Homo sapiens: one gene and its partners. The protein of the gene in region 2 purifies or fractionates together with the protein of the main gene of each other region. This does not show direct contact. Each region holds a gene or a part of one and is shown on either strand. Other genes may lie near its edges. The genes, in order: C10orf88, SSX3 and NCS1.

Region 1 (3,655 bases), on a different chromosome or scaffold from region 2:
AAAAGTCAATGTTCCCAAAATTAAATTCCTTTTTCCTCCAAGCATCCTCCTCCTTTGGGCTGCATTTATATTATTAGTATCACCATCTTCAAAGCCTCAATTTCATGTTTAACTTGATTTTTCTATCATAATACCAATATTAAGTTAGCTGTCAAGTCCCAATGGCTCCATCATTTTAGCATCATTTAGCATCCAGCATTATGTTACTACGTCCAATCTTAGACCTCATTCACTCTCATCTGGACGAGGGGAATGACGTGCAGCTCATCTTCTCCTTGTAGTCTCACTTTCTTCAGATTCACCTTACACTTGACAGTGGCTTAAAATTTCTTGAAACATAAGTCAAAAACATCTACAAATTTAAACCAGCATCCCAAGCTGTTTATGATCTAGCTGAAATCTACTTTAAACTTTGCCTATTACTTTTTTGCTTCAGAGAAATGAACTACCATTCATTTCCCAGCTATATCAAATTCTTCTAGCATTGAAGATTTTATTCACCTTATTTTTTGTCTGAAATGGCCTTCTTCCAAATTTACTTGTCTAATCCCACCCTACATTTTAAAGGCCTAGATAAAATACCACTTCTTTTAGTGAGCCTTTCCTTAGTGTTTTCATCATTCCCCACTTACATGCTCCAGAATGTAAAAATTCTTAAAGACTACAGATTAACTGACCATCTTCGCACACTCAAAATTGCTCAAACCAGTGCCTTGTTTACTGCAAGAAAAAAATCTTGCTGAATGAATGAATGCATTCATAAAAAGTGTGAAAATGTGTAGTCAAAACACTTTGTAGAAGGGCAAATCTAACAAATGTTAACTTCTACAAAACTAAAAGATAACAGTTAAATCAGTATGAAAGAAAAATTTTAAGTCACTACATTTCTTTACTAAAAGCAATGGTTTTGAAATCATTAATGTTATCTGGAAAGAAATCCATTTCTACTTACCCGCTGCTGACACCTAACCATATCCATCAACTGCTGAGCTCCAGGAGATAACTTTGACCCCATGGACTCCATTATGGTTTGGACCTTGTCAAGGTCTATCCTTGATCCTAGAGCAGGAGAGCTTGTTGAAGAATTTGCAAAAACTGATCTCATGTGTACCACAACTTTACTGATGAACACACACTGCCTTTCGCCAAAGGAGAGCAACTATTATAAAACAAAAGTTCCAGAAAAGAATGATATTAAAAACAATAATCATTTAATGTAACTTCTTGGTATGACCTAAACAAGAGTGAAGTATTCAAGAATCTAAAAATTAACTTCAAGTATATTTTAAACTTTTCTCTAGAACAGCAATAGTCAGGAAAAATTCCAATTTATCATGAGGCTCAGATGAACTATTTAAATAAGAGTCCTTTCAAAAATTAAGACTTCATGTAAAATAACAAATGAGGTGATTAAATAAATGTTTACCTATTTAAAGAACTAAAAATAAACTATAGTAGTTCCTCTTTATCTGTGGAGAATGTGTTCTAAGACCTCCAGTGGCTCCCTGAAATTGCATATAGTACCAACCCCTATATTTTTTCCTATACATACATACCTATGATAAAGTTTAATTTATAAATTAGGTATAGTAAGAGTTTAACAATAGAGTAATTTTGACAACATAATAAAAGTTATGTGAATATGGTCTCCTCTCTCTAAATCTTACTGTGCAATACTTACCCTTCCTGTAATGACGTGACATGATAAAATGCCTACATAATGAGATGAAGTGAGGTGAATGACACAGGCATTGTAATACAGGATTAGGCTACTACTGACCTTCTGATGATACATTTGGCTAGTAAGTGGCTAATGGGCAGTAACATATACAGCAGGGACATACTAGACAAAAGGATGATTCATGTTCCAGACAGGACTGAGCAGGATGGCAGGAGATTCGATCACACTACGCTGAATGAAGCACAATTTAAAACTTATGAATTGTTTATTTCTGAAATTTTCCATTTAATATTTTTGGACCTCAGTTGACTGTGGGTAATGGAAACTGTGGAAAGTGAAACTGCAGATAAAGGAGAACTGCTATATACCAATCTGAGACCTTAACACACCACAACTTGCTACTTAACACAAAATAAGTCTGTCCAAATGCTCATGTAAAACGTTTACTGAAATAAGTAAAATGCAATCCTTTCAAATTCAGAACTATAAGAGAATATCAAAATGATGTAATATAGCTTGCTGGATTACACATAGAAATGATGACTTCAAGGGTGATTTTTCTAACTTGTTAAAGGACACTCAATTAGTAAAGAACCAGCTTGAAACCTATCTCTTCTGGCTTCTATCCCTGTAGTTTATCCAACATTTTATCCTGTCCATATTTCTGAAACGAGACATTTCATGTATGGTACAGACAACAGAGTAGCAAAATGGAAAGGGAACGGACTTTAGAATCAGACAAACCTAAGTTTAACTTACGACTCTGGTACTTAACAACCTGTGTGACCCTGGGCAAATGCTAAATCTGAGTCAGGATAAAAATGAGAGAAGACAGTAGCAATGATTTCACATAGTTGTTGCGAGGATTATATGTTAAAATTTCCAGTAGCTACCAGTAAGTAAGTGCTCAAAAACCTGTATAAGTAACCATTTTTTTATTTGAACTTCCATATACTATTGCCTCAGAACAAGCTTTCATATCAATCCTAGAGCTTCCCTGAAATAACCCTTTGCACTCCCATGTACCTCCATTGAACAGTTAAAAAAACATTCACCTTCAGAGAGACACACAGGTCCACATGTCAAACAAGGACATAGGTCAATACAGACTCATGATCCAAGAACTCTTAAGTGTTGAACCAAAGATGTGACTGTCTTCAACATTTTAAGGAAACACTCTTATTAACCTCCTACCTCTCAACCTCTCTATTATCCCCCTTTCTCTTTTTAACCCCATAGCCTTTTTCACCATTAAATATAGTATTTATTTTACTCATTGAGTCTCCTTATTGTCTGTCTTGCCCACTAGAATACAAGCAACATAAGTTCAGGCATTTCAGTTTATTTTCTTATTGCTAATTCCTAAATGACTGGTATAGTACCTGACATTAAGAGGCACTCAAATCTTTGTTGAATGAAGAAATTACTTTATTCAAATGGTTTTAGAAGCTATTTAATATATACTATCCAAAACAACATCTTGGGATAATCAGTCCTGTGAGTTTGCTATCTGCCTGTAAAAATCACTTATTTTTTCTTATTGTAAAAATAGGTTTCAATCTTCTATAAGTAATGATAATAAGTACAGAAGTTTAGAGATAAAAAGAATCCAAGAATTTTCTTCAGCTCTCTAATTTTACCCATGAGATAGGTCCAAAATCTGCCCAAGACTAATCCACTAGTCAGGACAGAACTGAATTAGCATTCAGGGCTTAAGACTTCCAATCCATTACCTTATCCCTAGACTCTGAAGACATAACTAACAGTTACCTTAACAATATTTTTCATGCTGAAGACAACAGTCCAATCCCTTTAACTTATTGGTTCTCTTGCTTGAAACTTCTCTAATTTTGTTCTTTTATAAATGGGTTTTTGCCATCACAGTTTATATAGTTTTTAAAAATGTTTTTTGCTCAATTTCCCAACACTTCAAAATACACAGCACTACCATATTAACAATACATTATCCAAGGT
Region 2 (3,655 bases):
ATGCATTAGCTTATTCAATGTTCTCAACAACACTGGGAGAGTTACACAGGCCTAAATTAGGAGAAACCTGGGAGGGGAGGTTAGAAGGGAAAGGAATGGCCTAAGTGAATATGGTTTCCAGGGATAGAATGCTTATCTTCCCACTCTTTTAGGACTCACATTCTTGCAAACAGCAAAAATCTCCATTTAATTGAGAGTGTGATATACAGATGATTTGGAGAAGAGTAGCATTCTAAGAATTCACAAGGTCTACAAAGGGAAGAGGTTCTGTAAAATACAAGGGATCCCATATAAGCTTGTAGACAGCTGCTGGGAGAGTAAATGTAAAAACATAGGGAGGCGACAAAACACTGCTGGGAAAGATGGTGTGGGGAGATGAACACAAGGAAGGGAGAGGGAAATAAATGGCTTGCTGAAATTAATCTAGGCAGCAAACAAAGCAGTACCAGATATGACATACTACCCTACCGAGGCACCAATTGAATGTGGAATTCAGTGAGGTGGTACCCATACCAATTCTGGTTGCATTGGGATGTGTACTGACCAACAATCTTAAGCTGCTTTCTTTTTCTTTTTTTTTTTTTTTTTTGAGACGGAGTCTTGCTGTGTCGCCAGAATGGGGAGCCGTGGCATGATATCGGCTCAAGGCAATATCTGACTCCCGCGTTTAAGCGATTCTCCTTCCTTAGCCTCCAGAGTATCTGGGACTACAGGCAGGCACTACCACGCCCCACTAAGTTTTGTATTTTTAGTAGAGACGAGGTTTCACCATGTTGGGCAGGATGGTCTCGATCTCCTGACCTTGTGATCTGCCCGACTCAGCCTCCCAAAGTGCTGGGATTACAGTCGTGAGCCACCGCGCCCTGATCTTAAGCTACTTTTAATTCAGCTTCCTCCCTTATGAAATAGTGAACCATACATGTAAAATAGGCTACAAGAAAGTGCTCTCTGAGCTTGTAAACACTCTTTAAATGTAGTAATAATAACAATTAATACCTTTCACAATCCTTCTTTGAATTCAGTCTCCACACTGGCAACCCAACTCCCAGATCCCTTTACCCTCCAAACCAGAGTTGAATCTGCACTTGTGGGATCACTCATTCAGGGGCCTCCGAGGGATCCCCTGGGCTGGGACTGGGGCTTCCCAGACGCCCCAGGTGCAGACAAGGCACTCAAGGAGCTCACAGTAGGGAGGGGCCAACAATCAAAGCGATTCCTAAGCCATGCAAGTGGCCCCAGTAACACAGCAGAGACCAGATGGTCCTTCCTGTTGCGAGAGTGGGTGTCTCAATGGAAGCACCAGCAGGCCCTATGGGGTGAAGCCCTAGTGAGCAACATCTGAACTTCATAAACAAATGCAAACGTGAATGAGCTTTAAATGGCTTGGAGCTCTGGATTAGACTACCACTGACACTGCGCCTCAGGAAAATTCTTTAACATCTCTGTACCACGATAGCCTCATTTTATTATTATGTTGCTGATAACTATGATCTAAAACATAAACTATAATTCTTTACTTCCATTTCATGGACCAGGAATCTGGAGCTCAGAGAACTCAGAAGATTTGTGCCAAGTCATATGGCTATCATATGGATGAAAACTGAAATGTGTTACTCATTATTATTCGGAGATAATAGAAACAATGTCTTCTTAAGGATTAAATAAATTAATCCATGTGAACTGCTTGAAATAGTATCTGGCATCACTATGAAAACAAAAGAGGTATGAACAATCACAAATGTTGGTACTATCAAGCCGTCGGTGCTACATCAGGTGTTGTGATAGACATGGGGAGAAGAAGGCAGTGAGGGCATTGTTGATATTCTCCCACTCTTACCAGTGTTCGCATCCTTGGAGGGACAAAGGTTCTCTGGTCCTTTAGATCTGAAAGATACTCACCTTCGGGAAGATTCCCTGGAGCCTGCCGAAAGTCATCTGAGGACGTTGAACTGAAAGAGAATACATCAGAATTTTTCATTGTTGGTAAAGGTTTCCAAACTCTAGAGAGACTTCTGTCGCATCAGGGTATTCTGCAGCAGAGGCTTATGAGTCCACGCATTGTTGAGGAGTTATTTCAGATTTGCTTCTGAATTATGTTTAGTCATGGTTGATGCATTTATCTGTGGCATCAATTCAGAATTTTCCATCTCATGGTTTATCACATGGGGACTACACCCCATCACAGTCTCATCTTATTCGATTACATATCTTTTACTTTTTCCCAAATAATTAAATTGATTGGTTAGGAATCTGAACTGTATCCACTCAAGATGTGCAACAACTGAAAATCATTGTACACTTCAAATGGGTGAATCTTATGGTATGTGAATTAAGCTGTTAAATGTGTGGTGAACCACGGATGATTTGGTCCAGTGGCTCTGAAAGATTTTCAGTACAAAGACAGTCCTTTAACGTTAAAAACTTGGCAGATACTCAAGCACTGGCTTTTCAGATCTCTTATAGTGATTGCGGGAGATTGTAGAATCTGGCCTGTTTAGTTGGCGAGTAATAGGTCTATTGGAGACGGTTTGGACATTCTGACCTTGTCTTATAATTATGTTGTCAGAGTAGAAGAGCAAGTAAATACATATGTCCCCTTTATTTTCCTGAAATGCACAAAGCTCTCTACCCAAGAACCTGTCTTTTTTTCATCCTATGTTATCTCTGTTCTCTGACAAGTGGGAAAGCTCTCTGTGTTTTCGATAAGGGATCACTCTTTCAAACTCTCTTTCAAGCTCATCACAGAGAATCAGGGTTATTTGGGAATGAGAAGACTATTTGGTTTTGATAAAATACAGAGAAACAGCGATCTTTATTACATAATGTGTTCATCAACCTCACTCCTAAGATACCTATCCAATACCTACATGCTGTTAATGAAACAACCTCTGGAAGTTTTTGGCGGATCTACAGTTTTAACACTTTCTTTCTTTTTTTTTTTTTTCACTTGTAACATTTTCTTAACTGTCCTTTGATACATTAACAGTGCTTAGGAAGAACAACATGTCATTTAAAAAAGAAATATTTCAAACACACAGAAAAGTATGGGGAATAATATTGAGTCCAGTCGGATCTCAACATTACCCCACAGCTAAGTTAGGTCTGATTTATTTATTCAGAATATTAGAAAAACTGCAAACAGGCCGGGCGTGGTAGCTCACACTTGTAATCCCAGCAGTTTGGAAGGCTGAGGCGGGTGGATCACCTGAGGTCAGGAAGTTTGAGACCAGCCTGGCCAACATGGTGAAACCCCGTCTCTACCATAAATTAAAAAATGAGCTGAGTGTGGGGGCACGTGCGTGTAACCCCAGCTACTCGGGAGGCTGAGGCAGAAGAATCACTTGAACCCAGGAGGTGAAAGTTGGAGTGAGCTGAGATTGCCTTATTGCACTCCACCCTGGCCGAGAAGAGTGAAACTCCATCTCAAAAACAAAAACAAACAAAACACACTATCAACAAGTCACAGCTGAAGCTGTCTGTGCAGCACTCAGCAATCCCTGCCCTCCCTCCCTCCTCCACTTACAGCCAGTCACCTTAGTTTGATGGCTTTTTATTCACATTCATGTTTGTATACATTTACCATTTACTTATTATCCATAAAAATATATATTCTTCTTTTGCATGTTTTAAAATTTTATATGAATGACCTCTGTAG
Region 3 (3,655 bases), on a different chromosome or scaffold from region 2:
CTCTCAATGCACTATTTTATTTTCTAATGTTGACTGTAGCAGGCCACACCATAATTGTGGGAGCAGAGTGGACTGTGGGGAGGAGGTGGGGGCTGGAGTTGGGGGAAGGAGAGGGGTGCTCCTCTGGGTAACATCCCAGGCCCCGGGCTCTCCCACGCACTCAGCTCCAGCCACTGATACCTCGGCCCTGGCAGCCCAATGCCCCATCCCTTTATTTTATTTGTTTATTTATTTATAGACAGAGTCTCGCTCTGTTGCTCAGGCTGGAGTGCAGTGGCACAATCTCGGCCCACTACAATCTCTGCCTCCTGGGTTCAAGCAATTCTCCTGCTTCAGCCTCCCAAGTAGCTGGGATTACAGGCATGTGCCACCACACCTGGCTAATTTTTGTGTTTTTAGTAGAAATGGGGTTTCGCCATGTTGGCCAGGCTGGTCTCGAACTCCTGACCTCAGATGATCCACCCACCTTGGCCTTCCAAAGTGCTGGAATTACAGGTGTGAGCCACCGTGCCTGGCCCTGTTATTTTTAATATATATATATATAAAATATTTAATATATATATAAAATATCATATATATATATATATATATATATATATATATATATAGAGAGAGAGAGAGAGAGAGAGAGAGAGAGAGAGAGAGAAAGAGAGAGTCTTGCTCTGTCACCCAGGCTAGAGTGCAGTAGTTCGATCTCGGCTTATTGCAACCTTCGCCTCCTGGGCTCAAGCCATCCTCTCACCTCCTCCCAAGTAGCTGGAACTACAGGCGCCCGCCACCACACCTGGCTAATTTTTGTATTTTTAGTAGAGAAGGGGTTTCATCCTGTTGGCCAGGCTGTTCTCCAACTCCTGACCTCAGGTGATCTGCCCGCCTCGGCCTCCCAAAGTGCTGGGATTATAGGGGTGAGTCACTGTGCCTGGCCCTGTTATTTTTAATTTATAAATAAATAAATATATATATACACATAAATATAAATTATGTATATATAAATATATATACATAAATATAAATTATGTATATATAAATATATATACATAAATATAAATTATGTATATATAAATATATATACATAATACATAAATATAAATTATGTATATATAAATATATATACATAAATATAAATTATGTATATATAAATATATATACATAAATATAAATTATGTATATAAATATATATACATAAATATAAATTATGTATATAAATATATATACATAAATATAAATTATGTATCTATAAATATATATACATAAATATAAATTATGTATCTATAAATATATATATGTGTGTGTGTATATATATATACGTATATATATATGTGTATATATATATACGTATATATATATGTATATACAGAGAGAGAGAGGGAGAGAGACTTGCTCTGTCACCCAGGCTGGAGTGCAGTGGCTTGATCTCGGCTTATTGCAAACTTCGCCTCCTGGGCTCAAGCCATCCTCCCACCTCAACCTCCCAAGTAGCTGGAACTACAGGCACCGCCACCAGGCCTGGCTAATTTTTGTATTTTTGTAGAGACGGGGTTTTGCCATGTTGTCCAGGCTGGTCTCGAACTCCTGGGCTCAAGCAGTCTGCTCACCTCAGCCTCCCAAAGTCCTGGGATTACAGGTGTGAGCCACCATGCCCAGCCTTATTTTTTTTAACCCTAGTTGCAATGGTGTGTGTGTGTCTGTCCCTGTCTATCCTGATGTAAATATTAGTTGACCTGATGAGGAATGGGCCATCCGGTCGCTGACTTCATGTTGGGGTACAGAGAGGAGGGGCGAGTTGAAGACCCCTCCCCACTGCCCCAGCCCAGGATCACTCAGCAGTGCTGCTTGCTTACAGGGGCCTTCAAGCTCTACGACTTGGACAATGATGGCTACATCACCAGGAATGAGATGCTGGACATTGTGGATGCCATTTACCAGATGGTGGTGAGAAGCCGGGTCTCGTGTGGTTAGGGGTGGCAGGAGGGGCAAAGCCAGTGACTGAGAGACAGAGAGAGAGCACTTGTGCAGCCATGCTCCTGCCCAGGGTGGAAGCAGGGGTCACTGGCTGAGCCGTTCTGTACATCTCTGCCTGGGCAGGCAGGCACAAGCTGGTAGATAGTGGGGCTGGGGTGTGGGATGTTCCAGGGCACAATGGCAGGGATGGGGAGGGGAAAGAAGAGGGGGGCGGCCCTCATCTGGAAACTGCCAGGTCTGGGGGGCAAATGCGTGGCCAAGAGCCCAAAGCCCAGAGTGCCAGGGCCCACCCCCGCCTTGTCCGTCCCTGCAGGGGAATACCGTGGAGCTCCCAGAGGAGGAGAACACTCCTGAGAAGAGGGTGGACCGGATCTTTGCCATGATGGATAAGGTGAGGTGGGGGGGCGGGGCTGGTCCTGGACCAGGGAGGCAAGGTGTCGGGGGCAGGAATTGGAGTCCCTGGATCCTGGGCCTGGCTTTGCTGCCAACCTCCTCCATGGCTCACGGCAGGCGGCACGGTGTCCTATCCCTGCTCAGCAGCTAGCCCCATCCAGTGTCCAGAGTCTTAAGTCAGTTTGCTCAGCATGTTTTCTTTAATCAACCAGAGTCCTTAGCCTTTTTTTTTTGTTTGCCATGGACCCCTTTGGCATTCTGGAGAAGCCTACAGACTTCTCAGCATAATGGCTTTAAGCGCATAAAATAAAATCCATAAGATCAAAAAGGAAGCTGATTATTTTAGAAAACAGCTGTCAGAGTATTTTAAAAAAAGAATCTGTGATGTAGCGTTCTGTGAGCTGCTTTCTTAACGCATTCACTAAGATGTAGTGGTGGGTCCAGCAACCCCCGAAATTGCGAGCTGTAATATCTGCAGCAACTAGGGTGTGTTATGAAAATACCTGTGATCCCTACTGTCGACAGATCACAGGTACTGCAGGTCCTGTTGGGGACCGTCGCCTAGGTTTCCATCAAAGGAAAAGCTACATTTCAGTTAGAGGTTAGTAAAAAAAGGCTGATTTTTTTTCCCCCAAGTTCATAGACCTGCTGACTTCTATCCACAGGCCCAAGGTTAAGAAACCCTTCTCTTTTTTTTTGAGACAGAATCTTCGCCCTGTCACCCAGGCTGGAGTGCAGTGGCGGGCGCGATCTCGGCTCACTGCAAGCTCTGCCGCCTGGGTTCACGCAACTCTCCTGCCTCAGCCTCCCGAGTAGCTGGGACTACAGGCGCATGCCACCATACCTGGCTAATTTTTTGTATTTTTAGTAGAGACGGGATTTCACCGTGTTAGCCAGGATGGTCTCGATCTCCTGACTTCGTGATCCACCAGCCTCGGCCTCCCAAAGTGCTGGGATTATAGGCGTGAGCCACCGTGCCTGGCCAAGAAACCCTTCTTTAAAGGGAACCAAAGCCAGGTGTGGTGGCTCACACCTGTAATCCCAGCATTTTGGGAGGCCGAGGCGGGTGAATCACCTGAGGTCAGGAGTTCGAGACCAGCCTGGCCAACATGGTGAATCCCTTTCTCTACTAAAAAAAAAAAAAAAAAAAAATCCGGGAGGCAGCAGTTGCAGTGAGTGGAGATCGCGCCATTGCACTCCAGCCTGGGCAACAGAGTGAGACGCAGTCTCAAAAAAAAAAAAAAAAATTATCCAGGCATGATGGCACATGCCTGTAATCCCAGCTACTCGGGAGGCTGAG

Evidence for each region.
Region 1: the proteins of SSX3 (region 2) and C10orf88 purify together in Homo sapiens (affinity purification with mass spectrometry; one large-scale study listed by BioGRID and IntAct). This does not show direct contact.
Region 3: the proteins of SSX3 (region 2) and NCS1 purify together in Homo sapiens (affinity purification with mass spectrometry; one large-scale study listed by BioGRID and IntAct). This does not show direct contact.

The regions. Positions count from the first base shown.
Region 1 is NC_000010.11:122,947,697-122,951,351, forward strand, and holds part of C10orf88 (ATPase PAAT), read right to left. Parts: intron 1,160-3,655; coding exon 953-1,159; intron 1-952. UniProt on the Homo sapiens protein: ATPase that regulates mitochondrial ABC transporters ABCB7, ABCB8/MITOSUR and ABCB10. Regulates mitochondrial ferric concentration and heme biosynthesis and plays a role in the maintenance of mitochondrial homeostasis and cell survival.
Region 2 is NC_000023.11:48,350,201-48,353,855, forward strand, and holds part of SSX3 (protein SSX3), read right to left. Parts: intron 1,950-3,655; coding exon 1,900-1,949; intron 1-1,899. UniProt on the Homo sapiens protein: Could act as a modulator of transcription.
Region 3 is NC_000009.12:130,220,807-130,224,461, forward strand, and holds part of NCS1 (neuronal calcium sensor 1), read left to right. Parts: intron 1-1,843; coding exon 1,844-1,932; intron 1,933-2,275; coding exon 2,276-2,353; intron 2,354-3,655. UniProt on the Homo sapiens protein: Neuronal calcium sensor, regulator of G protein-coupled receptor phosphorylation in a calcium dependent manner. Directly regulates GRK1 (RHOK), but not GRK2 to GRK5. Can substitute for calmodulin. Stimulates PI4KB kinase activity.